Linked DNA regions of Homo sapiens: regions 2 and 3 are each linked to region 1. Evidence: fine-mapped expression QTL. A gene starts in region 1. Each other region holds a variant in brackets. All regions are shown on one strand. Distances are from middle to middle.

Region 1 (4,000 bases):
TGCCAGGCCAACAATAACTATTATTAAGTCACTTGAAGATTCTATTTTTTTGATATAATGAAACAAGTATGTATTTACATCCTTAGGGATTTCTATCATACAAACATAGTATATAGCCTACCAAAAAAGAAAAAAGAGACTAAGACTTAGATCAAGGTTAAATTAAGGTCCTAAGTCTGCCACCTATTAGCTTAACTGAAAATGATCCCAATATCACAGCCTTTTGTCAGGAGTAAAGAGCAGAGATAAGAGGATAACTAAAATTTGATATCTCATAAATATGAAATTCTTAAGATATTAAAACGAATCAAGATAAAATCCTTATAATAAAATTACTGTCCATTTTACAGCATGAAGATAATGAGGTGCAATGATTTAAATTAACTCTCCTCAAAGCCATACTGCAAGTTGAGTGGTGAAACTGTGACATAACTCAGGTCTAAATCTTACTGTTCCTTTCACTATGCCATACTGAAACACTCTATGAATTATATACTACTGTTATGGTAACAGTGGAAAGTGAAAATATGTTTTATTATAATGAAGAGGCACATTATGCTTCCCAAAAAATAAGGAATTTTAAATTATGTTACATATTCACATATTTAAGTTATTGTAGATGCCACTTGATATGGTCGACAAGTGTGAAAATGTCCACATACATCCTTCAGTATTTTAAATGTATAACCTTTGGTATTTTACAAGTTTGAATATTAGCAGTTAGTTAAGCCTCAAGTGGACTTATCTACTTTTTGCAGGCCTACATTATCTTTCAAACAGAAGGGAAGGGCTGCACGTCTAACAGAAACGCTGCCGGCTTCTATCAAGCCACCACTAAAGCACAAGACCACGTGGTCTCTCATAAGCCCAAGGTTCCCTACTCCTCTCCCTCCTTTGACAAGGAACTGGAAACTAGGGTTTCTTTCTCTTATGTGGAGCCCTGACATGCCACCTGTGTAGTACAGACCGCAAACATCCTGCAGCCTGCCTCCCGGAAGACCAAGAATCAGAATAAAAGGGAACTTGGACGCCGACAATTCTAGGAAAGGAAATGAACAGAGAAGTAAAGCCGGTGAGATCGTGATAAGCCGCGGCACCGGGACCTGTCAAAACGGCGTATATAAGACTCAAACCAAACCACTATAACCTATCATTCGGGAAGGCCTGAGGTGGGAGCGGCACTACGGAAGGAAGGAGGACGAAGAGAACCGCACGAGTCAGAACCGCCGCCGCCGCCGCTCCCCGGATACCTTTCAGCATGCCCTGGCAAGCCAAGAACCCTGACCCTCATCTAGAGTCCAACCTTTGCCCCAACATTTCAGAAGCGGCCAAAATCCCGCTGCCCCGGCGGCCGCCGCCGGACCTGCCCGCACCTGTCACTAGCGAAAGAACCAGCTCGCGGCTCCCGCCCACTTCTCCACTATCCTCGGGCAACCGCGGGCATCTCAACCCCTTTCTCTTACCAGGTGTCCCCTTTCCGGAGCGAGGTTTTGAGCAGCGTCGCGATGTCAGACCGCTGGGTGTCCAGATCCGCCGCTCCGCCTTCCGCCATCTTCTTCCACTAGCGGTAGGGGAGGTGGCAGCGACGGCGGCGGCACGCCCCAGAGCATTATGGGAATGGCGTCCCACGGCCCCTCCCAGTCGGCCGGTCGAAACCAAAAGACACCGGGAGCGGGGGTGCTCCTCGGGACAAGAGGAGGCCCCGGGGGCGCACTGGGTGCGCGGCCATGGTCTGCTGCCCCCCATCGGTCCCCGCCCGTCCAGCATCTTGCCTTGGCCTCCTCTGGCCCGGGACTGCCGGGTTTTAGCTTTCCTCGCCGCCGAGGGCTCTGGCTCTCTCTCGCTAGAGGGATGCCACCGCCCTGTCCTCCCGTCCTCAGCGTTGCCTTCCCCTCCCTCTTTCCCACTGACGCCTTGAAAACCCTTATTTGCGCATTCACTCACGCTTGAGGGTGAGGTAGGGTGGGGCGGTGGTGTGGGGGCGTGGGGACGGCTAAGATATGGCAGAAAATGTAGCAGCTCAGTGACTGGGCTTTTCGTTACGAGTGGGAGAACCCAAGCTCGGTGAATATGGGCACACACAAAAAACACTCCGAAACCGAACGCTTGGTCTCCATGCCCTTCCTGGGTTCCTTCCAGCGCTCTTACTCCCGTTGTAGGTGGGGACCCTTTATAGGCTCTTTGTGACGCCTCCCCAGGCACACCCAGACGACTAAGCTGCAGTGAAAAACATGTCCCAGTTCATCGGTGAACAGGGAGTAGAATATGGACAGTATTGAATAATGCCAGATACTAAAGGAAGAAAACGTGCGAGAAACCCTCTTGTTTATACAGGATAGTAACATTTTCTTAGCCCCATCTTCGTATGGTGCCGTACACCTGAAATGAAACTAGATATGTCTTTAATTTGAAGTCAACGATTATGTTACAAAATAGAAAATCGAGTCGCTTAAAAATCAAATGCCAAGGTCACACAGCAGGTGGAGAGGTGAGTGGAGAGGCTGGTTCAAGAGCCCACATGCTATACAGTATAGCACACTCACTGCCTCTCCTTCTGAAAGCCTGAACTAAAATGTAAACTCTTTAAGAGCTGGAACTGGGTTCATCTTTTGTTTTAGCCTTTGTACACCTGGTGGTTAGCACAGTACTGATGGACATGTAAAAATTACCTAAATATTTGTTTAGTAAATGAATTGTGGCAAAATTACTTAAGTATTCCCGAGCATGATGTCCAGGGGTGTGATTTTAACATACCATATTGATGTGAAAAGTCTAAAAGATGGGCCGGAATCCCCACATCATTTCTCGTTTGCCCATTTTAAACCCTAACTCATTTGGTGAGAATGCGATAAAGGTAGGTGTAGTTATGCTAGTAGGAAGTGCTGAATCCAAGTGAAAGTAGTGTATATTGGCATTATGATTTGTGTATATCAGTATTATGATTATGATTGCTTATTTCTGCGTAATAATACTATTTTGCATTATCATGCCAACCTTGAATTGAGAGTTTTAAAACAACTTTCAGTGACTGCTATTTCTGGCTTTTCTCCTGACAGGTTAAAAGATTAAGAGTTTCTCTAACCACGGCTACCCTCTAAAAGTCACATTTTCCCCCTTTTTCCAGTCACTCTCTGAAAGAGAACAAAGTAATTTTCTGAAGGGAAGCTGCAGAATATGGAAAACATATATTGGAGCTACATGGATGTAAGTTCAAACCTCACTTCAACCTTTAGCTGCAAAGTTCTTGCCCTTTAATTGAATCATAAAATTGAGTATAATAATACCTACCTTAAGGGATTTTTATGAAGATTAAATGAAACAATTTGTGTTTATTGCCTGGGACGTAATAGCCATTCAATAAACACTAGTATTGTTTATTGATGACAGGGTGAATTGTACAGTATGTGAATTATACCTCAATAAAGCTATTGAAAAAAGGTGTTAGGGGCTTTGAAGGCAAAACTGTGCTCTCCTTCATTGTATAAACATAACATAACCAAGTAGCAATAAATCATTTATACCCTAATGTCCACTTTCCCTTAAGAGAAAATGCATTTTTGAAGTGTTGACAGCTACAACCATACAATGAAGTAAAATAATATTTTCTTCACTTGCACCATGCTCAAGGCAGCAGGTTAACTGGATATAGACGTGTAAATTCAATGCCAATTTGAATTATACATCAGATTTATGGAGCCGTTTTGTAGACCTAAGTAACTGCCATCAGAGTCAGGAAAGAGATAAAATTATAGTATTTTATTTAGCAAGCACTTACAGAGTGCCTAGCATGGTTCTAAACACTTTAAAATACTAACTTAATTCTCACAGCAATCACATGATTTTGGTACTATTATTATTTCAAGTCTATAGATAAGGAATTGAGGCAAGTAAGTGGCAGAACCTAAATTGAAACCAGGCAGTCTGGCTGCAGAATCTGGAAAGTTTGGGTAAACTTCAATTTTTCTATTGACCTTTATTATTTTGTTTACAGCAATCAACG
Region 2 (4,154 bases), 56 kb after region 1:
CTGGGAAACCACACCTTATCCACAGATCTGTGCAACCCATGAATCAGAAGATCCCCTTTGTGAGCCCATGCCACCAGGGCCTTGGATCCCAAACACAGAACTGTGTACATTCTTGGTGGCCACTTGGCTGAAGACTGCCTAAGACTACTGAGTTTGCAGGGGGAGGGGCAACCATTGTCACTGTGGCTTCCTGGAAGGGCAGCAGTCATTATGGCCACTCCAGTCTGCTGTGTTTCCCCTGCTGATGCCAGGGAAACTGGGCGGTTTGGACCCAGGAGGAATTCCCCACAGTGCAGCACAGTGGCTGTGGCAGATCATGGCCAGACTCCCTCTTTAGGCTGGACCCTGACCCATCCCTCCTCACTGGGTGGGGCCTCCCTGGGGAATTTCAGCAATTCCAGCCAGGGGTTTACAAACAGAACTCTGATATCACTGGGATGGAACTGCTGAGGGGAGGAGTGGCCAAAGTCTCTCTGGGTCAGCAGACTTAGTCTTTCTCCCTGTTGGCTCTGAGGAATCCAGGCAGTCTGGATGAGTGAGATTTCCCCCTGTGCAGTGCACCCCCTCTGCCAAAGGGCAGCCAGAGTGCTTTATTAAGTGGGTTCCTGATCCTGTGCCTCTTGACTGGGTGAGACCCCCCCAAGAGTGGTCACCAGACACCTTACACAGGAGCATTCCCACTGGCATTATATCAGTGCCCCTCTGGGACAGAACTTCCAGAGGAAGGAGCAGGCAGCCATCTTTGCTATTGTGCAGCCTCCACTGGTGATACCTACAGGTGCAGGAGGGACCCAGGTGAAGGGGTCTTGAGTAGACCCCCAGCAAACTGCAGCAGCCCATGGAAAAGGGGCCTGACTGTTAAAAGAAAAACAAACAGAAAACAACAACAACCACAGCATCAACAAAATGTCCCCATAAAAACCCATCCAAAGGTGAGCAGTCTCAAAGTTGAAGCTAAATAAACTCATGAAGATGAGAAAGAATCAATGAAAACATGCTGAAGACTCAAAAAGCCAGAATACCTCTTCTCCTCCAAATGATCATAGCACCTCCCCAGCAAGGGCATAGAACTGGGTGGAAGCTGAGATGAATGAATTGACAGAAGTAGGCTTCAGAAAGTGGGTAATAATGAACTTCACTGAGCTAAAGGAGCATGTTCTAACCCAATGTAAAGAATCTGAGAACCATGATAAAACATGACAGAATAACTGGTTATTCTCTGGTTAGAGAGGAACATAAATGACCTGATGGAGCTGAAAAACACAGCACAAGAACTTCACATTGCAACCACAAGTATCAATAGCCAACTAGACCAAGCAGACGAAAAAATTTCAGAGCTTAAAGACTATCTTGTGGAAATAACACAGGCAGACAATATTAGAGAAAAAAAGAATAAAAAGTAATGAACAAAACCTCCGAGAACTATGGGCTTATGTAAAAAGACTGAACCTACAACTGATTGCACTACCTGAAAGAGACAAGGGGATTGGAAAACATACTTTGGGTTATCATCCAGGAGAACATTCCCAACTTAGCAAGACAGGCCAACATTCAAATTCACGAAATCCAGAGAACACCAGTAAGATACTCCATGAGGAGATCAACCCCAAGACACATAATCATCAGATTCTCCAAGGTCGAAATGAAGGAAAAAATGTTAAGGGCAGCCAGAGAGAAAGGCCAGGTCACCTACAAAGGCAAGTTCGTCAGACTCACTGTGGACTTCTCCTGAGAAACCCAACAAGCCAGAAGAGATTGGGGGCCAATATTCAACATTCTTAAAAAAAAAAGAATTTCCAACCCAGAATTTCATATCTGGCCAAACTAAGCTTCATGAGCAAAGGAGAAATAAGATCCTTTCCAGGCAAGCAAATGCTGAGGGAATTTGCCACCACCAGGCCTGCCTTGCAAGAGCTCCTGAAGGAAGCACTAAATGTGGAAAAGAAAAACCATTACCAGCCACTACAAAACCACACTGAAGTACAAAGACCAAAGACACTATGAGGCAACTACATCAACAAGTCTGCAAAATAGCCAGCTAGCATCATGATGACAGTATCAAATTCACATAAAACAGCATTAACCTTAAACGTAAATGGGCTAAATGCCCCAATTAAAAAACACAGAATGGCAAGCTGGGTAAAGAGTCAAGACCCATTGGTATGTTGTATTCAAGAGACTGAGCTCATGGGCGAAGACACACATAGGCTCAAAATAAAGGGATGGAGGAGAATTTCCCAAGCAAATGGAAAGCCAAAAAAAGCAGGGGTTGCAATCCTAGTTTCTGACAAAACAGACTTTAAACCAATGAAGATTAAAAAAAGACAAGGGCATTACATAATGGTAAAGAGTTAAATTCAACAAGAAGAGCTAACTGTCCTAAATATATAGGCACCCAATACAGGAGGACCCAGATTCATAAAACAAATTCTTAGAGACCTACATAGAGACTTAGATGCCCACACAATAATAGTGGGAGACTTTAACACCCCACTGTCAATATTAGACAGATGATCGAGACAGAAAATTAACAAGGATATTCAGGACTTGAACTCAGCTCTGGATCAAGTGGACCTGATAAATATCTACAGAACTCTCCACCCAAAAACAACAGAATATACGTTATTCTTGGCGCCACATGGC[G/A]CTTACTCTAAACTTAATCACATAATTGGAAGTAAAACACTCCTCAGCAAATGCAAAAGAACCAAAATCATAACAAACAGTCTCTCAGACCACAGCACAATCAAATTAGAGCTCAAGACTTAAGAAACCCCCTCAGAACCACATAACTACATGTAAGATGGGTGTGGTGGCTCATGCCTGTAATCTCAGCACTTTGGGAGGCTGAGGTGGGTGAATCACTTGAGGTCAGGAGTTCAAGACGAGCCTGGTCAACATGATGAAACCGTGTCTCTACTAGAAATACAAAAATTAGCTGGGCATGTTGGCATGTGCCTTTAGTCCCAGCTACAAAGGAGGCTGAGGTATGAGAATTACTTGAGCCAGGGGGTGGAGGTTGCAGTGAGCTGCGATTGCACCACTGCACTCTAGCCTGGGTGACAGAGCAAGACTGTCTAAAAAAAAAAAAAAAAAAAAAAAAAAAGAACCACACAGCTACATGTAAATTGAACAACTTGCTCGTGAATGACTCCTGGGTAAATAATGAAATTAAGGCAGAAATCAAGAAGTTCTTAGAAACCAATCAGAACAAAGAGACAAAGTACCAGGATCTCTGGGATGCAGTTAAAGCAGTATTAAGAGGGAAATTTATAACACTAAATGCCACATCAAAAAGCTAGAAAGGACCGGGCACAGTGGCTCACGCCTGTAATCCCAGCACTTTGGGAGGCCAAAGCAGGTGGATCATCTGAGGTCAGGAGTTTGAGACCAGTCTGTCCACCTCTACTAAAAATACAAAAATTAGCTGGGCATGGTGGTGGGTGCCCAGCTACTAGGGAGGCTGAGGCGAGAGAATCACTTGAACTGGGAGGCAGAAGTTGCAGTGAGCCAAGATCGTATCATTGCACTCCAGCCTGGGCCACAGAGCGAGACTCTGTCTCAAAAAGAAAAAAAAAAAACTAGAAAGATCTCAAATCTAACATCACAATTAATAGAACTAGAAAACCAAGGGCAAACAAACCCCAAAGCTAGCAGAAGACAAGAAATAACCAAGATCACAGTAGAAATGAAGTAGATAGGGATATGAAAAACCCTTAAAAAATCAGCTAATCCAGGAGCTTGTTTTTTGAAAAAAATTAATAAAATAGACTGTTAGCTAAACTCATAAAGGAGAAAAGAGAGAAGAATAAAATAGACACAATAAAAAATCATAAAGGGGATATCATCATTGACCCCACAGAAATACAAACAGCCGTCAGAGAATACTATAAACACATCTATGCAAATAAACTAGAAAATCTGGAAGAAATAAATAAATTCCTGGACACATACAACCTCTGAAGACTGAATCTGAAAGAATTTGAATCCCTAAATAGACCAATAAAAGGTTATGAAATTGAGGCAATAATAAATAGCCTACCAACCAAAAAAAGCCTAGGACCAGACAGATTTGCAGCTGAATTCTACCAGAGGTACGAAGAGGCACTGGTACCATTTCTTCTGAAACTATTCCAGACAATTGAAAAGGAGAGACC
Region 3 (4,154 bases), 33 kb after region 1:
AAAATCCTGAACTTAAAAAATAAAGTAGGAGATATCACACTACCTGAGTTCAAAATATACTATAATCAGAGAGGTGCAAATCAAAACTACAGTGAGATACTATCTTATACTAGCCAGAATGGCTATTATAAAAAAGTCAAAAAATAACAGATGTTGGTGAGGTTGCAGAGAAAAGGGAATGCTTATGCACTGTTGGTGGGAAAGCAAATTAGTTTAGCCTCTGTGGAAAGCAGTTTGGAGATTTCTCAAAGAACTGGAAATTGAAATACCATTTGATCCAGCAATTCCATTACTAGGTATATACCCACAGGAAAATAAGTCATTCTACCAAAAAGACACCTGCACTCATATATTTATCACAGCACTATTCACAATAGCAAAGACATGAAATCAACCCAAGCCAAAGCCAAATACTGCATGTTCTGACTTATAAGTGGGAGCTAAACATTCCGTACACATGGACACATAGATGGAAACAATAAACACGAAGGATTCCAAGTGTGGGGAGGGAGGAAGAGGGAAAGGGTTGAAAAACTACCTATCAGGTGCTAAGTTTACTACTTGGGCAACGATAAAAAAATTAAAAATTAAAACAATTATTTCAGAGATAAGTGTGTGTGTATGTACACACGTGTATATATACATGTGTATGTGTATATACAAAGTAAATATATACACTACAAAGCCATAGTAACCAAAACAACATGGCACCCACATAAAAACATATACATAGACCCATGGAACAGAAGAGAGAATCAAGAAATAAATCCACACATTTACAGCCAACTCATTTTTGGAAAAGGCACCAAGAACGTACATTGGGGAAAGGGCAGTCTCTTCAATAAATGATACTGAGAAAACTACAAACCATAAGCAGAAGAATGAAGCTTGAGCCCTCTCACCATATACACAAATAAAATAAAAATGGATTAAATACTTAAGTCTAGGATTGAGACTATGAGAAGAAAACTTTGGGAAACGCTTCAGGACATTGGTCTGGGCAAAGACATTTTGGATAAGACCTCAAAAGCACAGGCAACAAAAGCACAAATAGACAAATGTTATTATATCAAGCTAAAATCTTCTACACAGGAAAGGAAATAATCCACAAAGAGAAAAGACAACCTACAGAATGGGAGGAAATATTGCTCGGTATCTATCCAACAAAGGAGTAATAACCAGAATGCATGAGAAACTCAGCTCAATAGCAAGAAAACAAATAATTTACTTTAAAATGGGCAAAAGATCTGCAGAGCTATTTCTCAAAAAAAGACAAATACCCTTCTGCCAGAGAGTTTGCTGCCCCTGCTTGTCCCATCAGCCAGACACTTTAGTGTATGCATATGTAACTGTACACAGTAGGACTGCATACTTACTCCGACCAGGAAGTTCAGAGCAGGCTTTTTGGGGGATATGATTAACGACTTCTGTCTTGAGAGATAAATAAGGCTTAGCCAAGAAGAAATGTAAGAGTGTAAGAGAGGTTAGAGGGAAAAAATAATGTGATCTGAGGAAGAAACTACCAGAAATTCTACACCACCAGAACACAAAGTGCAAGGTATGGAATAACAAGAAATAAAGTGAGGATAAGGAAAGGGGAATGGATTATGAAGACCTTATGTCATGATACATAGTCTAGGCTTCAGGCTGAAGGAAGTGGGGATTCACTGATGGATTTTAAGCAGGGTGTTCCCATATTGAAATCTGGGTTTCAGATAGACTACCAAGGCTTTGGTGACCTTGATGAGAGCAAGGCTATACACAGCAGGAGAAGTGGTTTAGCTGCTGCAATATGCCAGGCCAAAAAAGATGGGCCTGAACTAAAGCAGCAGTAGCAGGGTTACAGGGGACGGGCCAGATTTGAGAAATGTTTACAAGGGAAAACTGGCACCATTTGATTGTGAGTGAAAAGTAAAGAAGAATAAATTACTAAAGATGACTTCCATATTTTTGCCTTGGGTAACTTGGTGAATAGTAGAGTCATTAATTGATTTTGGAAATATGAGAGGAAGAATGTGTTTGGAGGATGGAAAGTGGGGTAAACTTTCTCTTAGATATTCAGGGTTTGAAGGGCTTGAGTTACACACAGGTTTAAAAGCCTCAAGATAGGTATCAGTATTAAAGATTTGGAGGTGATTAACCTACTGATGGTAGTTAAGGCCCAGAGAGTGGAATGAGATTGCTTAAAAGAGTAATC[A/G]AGGCCGGGTGCGGTGGCTCACGCCTGTAATCCCAGCACTTTGGGAGGCCGAGGAGGGTGGATCGTGAGGTCAGGAGATCGAGACCATCTTGGCTAACACAGTGAAACTCCGTCTCTACTAAAAATACAAAAACAAAATTAGCCAGGCGTGGTGGCGGGTGCCTGTAGTCCCAGCTACTGGGGAGGCAGAGGCGGGAGAATGGCGTGAACCCAGGAGGTGGAGCTTGCAGTGAGCGGAGATCACCCCACTGCACTCCAGCCTGGGCGGCAGAGCGAGACTCCGTCTCAAAAAAAAAAAAAAAAAGAGTAATCAAGAGAAAGATATAGACCAAGACTGGAGTCCTAAAACACAACAGCATTTAAGCAAAGGTACTTACTGGAGAAAGTAAAGAGAGCACACCACTATGAACATCTTAGAAAGAGCCAACAAACAAAACTTCTTGAAGGCAATGGGTATAACCTGAGGGGCAAAACCTAAACACTTTGAGGATGGAGTGCATGTTATGTGAGATCATCTGTAGTGTAAGTTTCTAGATGTGGGAGTACTGCCTCAAAATGCACATACTTTGGAAATTTTTATAAATATTGCCAAATTACCCTCCACAGATTTTAAACCCATTTATACACCAATCAGCAATGTATAAAACTGCCTGTTTCTCTATGCTTTTGCCAAGAATGTGTTATTAAACTTTCTGATCCTTGTCAAACTTACATGTAAAAATTCATATTTTGGGGTATCTTTATACATATTTCTTTTCTTGTGAGAAAGTTTGTGTATCCATATGACTAAGAGTCACTTGTATGTCCTTTTCTATAAAATGTCTCCTTTGATGTTTCTCTGTTTTCCATTTTTTTTCTTTAATATTGATTTGGAGGAATCTTTACTATATAAGGAAAATTAAGCATTTATTTGTATGTTGCAATAGCTTTCTCCAGTTTTTAACTTTGTTGGGTTTTTTTCATGTATTTAAAAAATTAATTTCTAGTAAAATTAATCAGTGCTTTCTTTTATGGCTTTTCAGTTTAGAAGCACGCTTAGAAAGGCTTTTCTGATTTCAAGATTATAACAGTTTTTCTCACATGATTTCTTATAGCTTCTTTATGATTTATTTACATTTGAGTCTGATCAGTCTGGAATTTTTATTGTTATAAGGTGGAAAGTGTGTATCCAATTTCATTATTTCCTGGAGGGATAATTATTGTCCCAACACCATTTGCTAAAGTAGTCATTCTCTACTGACTTGAAGCAACTAAATTCTCATTATATTTGATCAATTTCTGGACATTCTAGTTCATTTCTTCCAGCTGTTTGTCTAATATTGTGCTAGTACCACATTGTCTTAATTAATTGATTAAACTAAGCCCGCCACCATCCCCACCAACTTTTTTTTTTAAATTTTTTTATGAGACGGAGTCTCACTCTGTCGCCCAGGCTGGAGTGCAGTGGTGTGATCTCAGCTCACTGTAACCTCCGCCTCCTGGGTTCAAGTGATTCTCCTGCCTCTGCCTCCTGAGTAGCTGGGATTACAGGCGTGTGGAACTAAGCCCTTTTTAATGCTCTTCTTTTTCAGAAATGTATTGCCCATTACTTATTTTTTAATTTTAATTTTAAAAATCTGCGAAAATGTAAATAACGTAAAATTTACTATTTTATCAATGTTTAAGTATACAGTTGAGTGGCATTAAGTACACTCATTATTGTGCAACCACTGTTACCATCAATTCCTGTTACCAGGACTTTGTTCATCTTCCCAAACTGAAAGTCTGAACCCATTAAACAATAACTCCCCATCCCTCCCTTTCCCCAGCCTCTGGCAACCATTTTATTTTTTGTGTCTATGAATTTTAATACTCCAGTGCTATGGTCTAAATGTTTGTGTCACCCCAAAATTCATATGTTAAGTTTTAATGCTCAATGTGATGGTATTAGGGGGTGAGGCATTTGGGAGGTATAATT

What was found. PIP is the estimated chance that this variant, and not a neighbour inherited with it, causes the effect. A credible set is the group of variants that fine-mapping cannot tell apart.
Region 2: its variant is the best candidate, but not a certain one, in a credible set for the expression of USP15 in whole blood (INTERVAL, PIP 0.65).
Region 3: its variant is the best candidate, but not a certain one, in a credible set for the expression of USP15 in whole blood (TOPMed, PIP 0.68).

Annotation. Positions count from the first base shown.
Region 1 is chr12:62,257,967-62,261,966 of GRCh38, reverse strand. It overlaps USP15 (ubiquitin specific peptidase 15), which reads right to left and starts at 1,563. Exons shown (of 22, transcript NM_001252078.2): 1 at 1,464-1,563. The coding sequence starts at 1,552. It overlaps MIR6125 (microRNA 6125), which reads right to left and starts at 1,608; the gene lies at 1,513-1,608. It also overlaps a transcript of TAFA2 not described here. RefSeq lists enhancers at 1-334, 1,058-1,107, 1,328-1,687, 2,238-2,307 and silencers at 1,728-1,837, 1,918-1,977.
Region 2 is chr12:62,201,771-62,205,924 of GRCh38, reverse strand. It overlaps a transcript of TAFA2 not described here. Among named protein-coding and RNA genes, the nearest start is that of TAFA2, 11 kb to the right of the region's middle. The variant G/A (reference allele first, on the strand shown) is at 2,644.
Region 3 is chr12:62,224,542-62,228,695 of GRCh38, reverse strand. It overlaps a transcript of TAFA2 not described here. Among named protein-coding and RNA genes, the nearest start is that of MIR6125, 34 kb to the left of the region's middle. The variant A/G (reference allele first, on the strand shown) is at 2,198.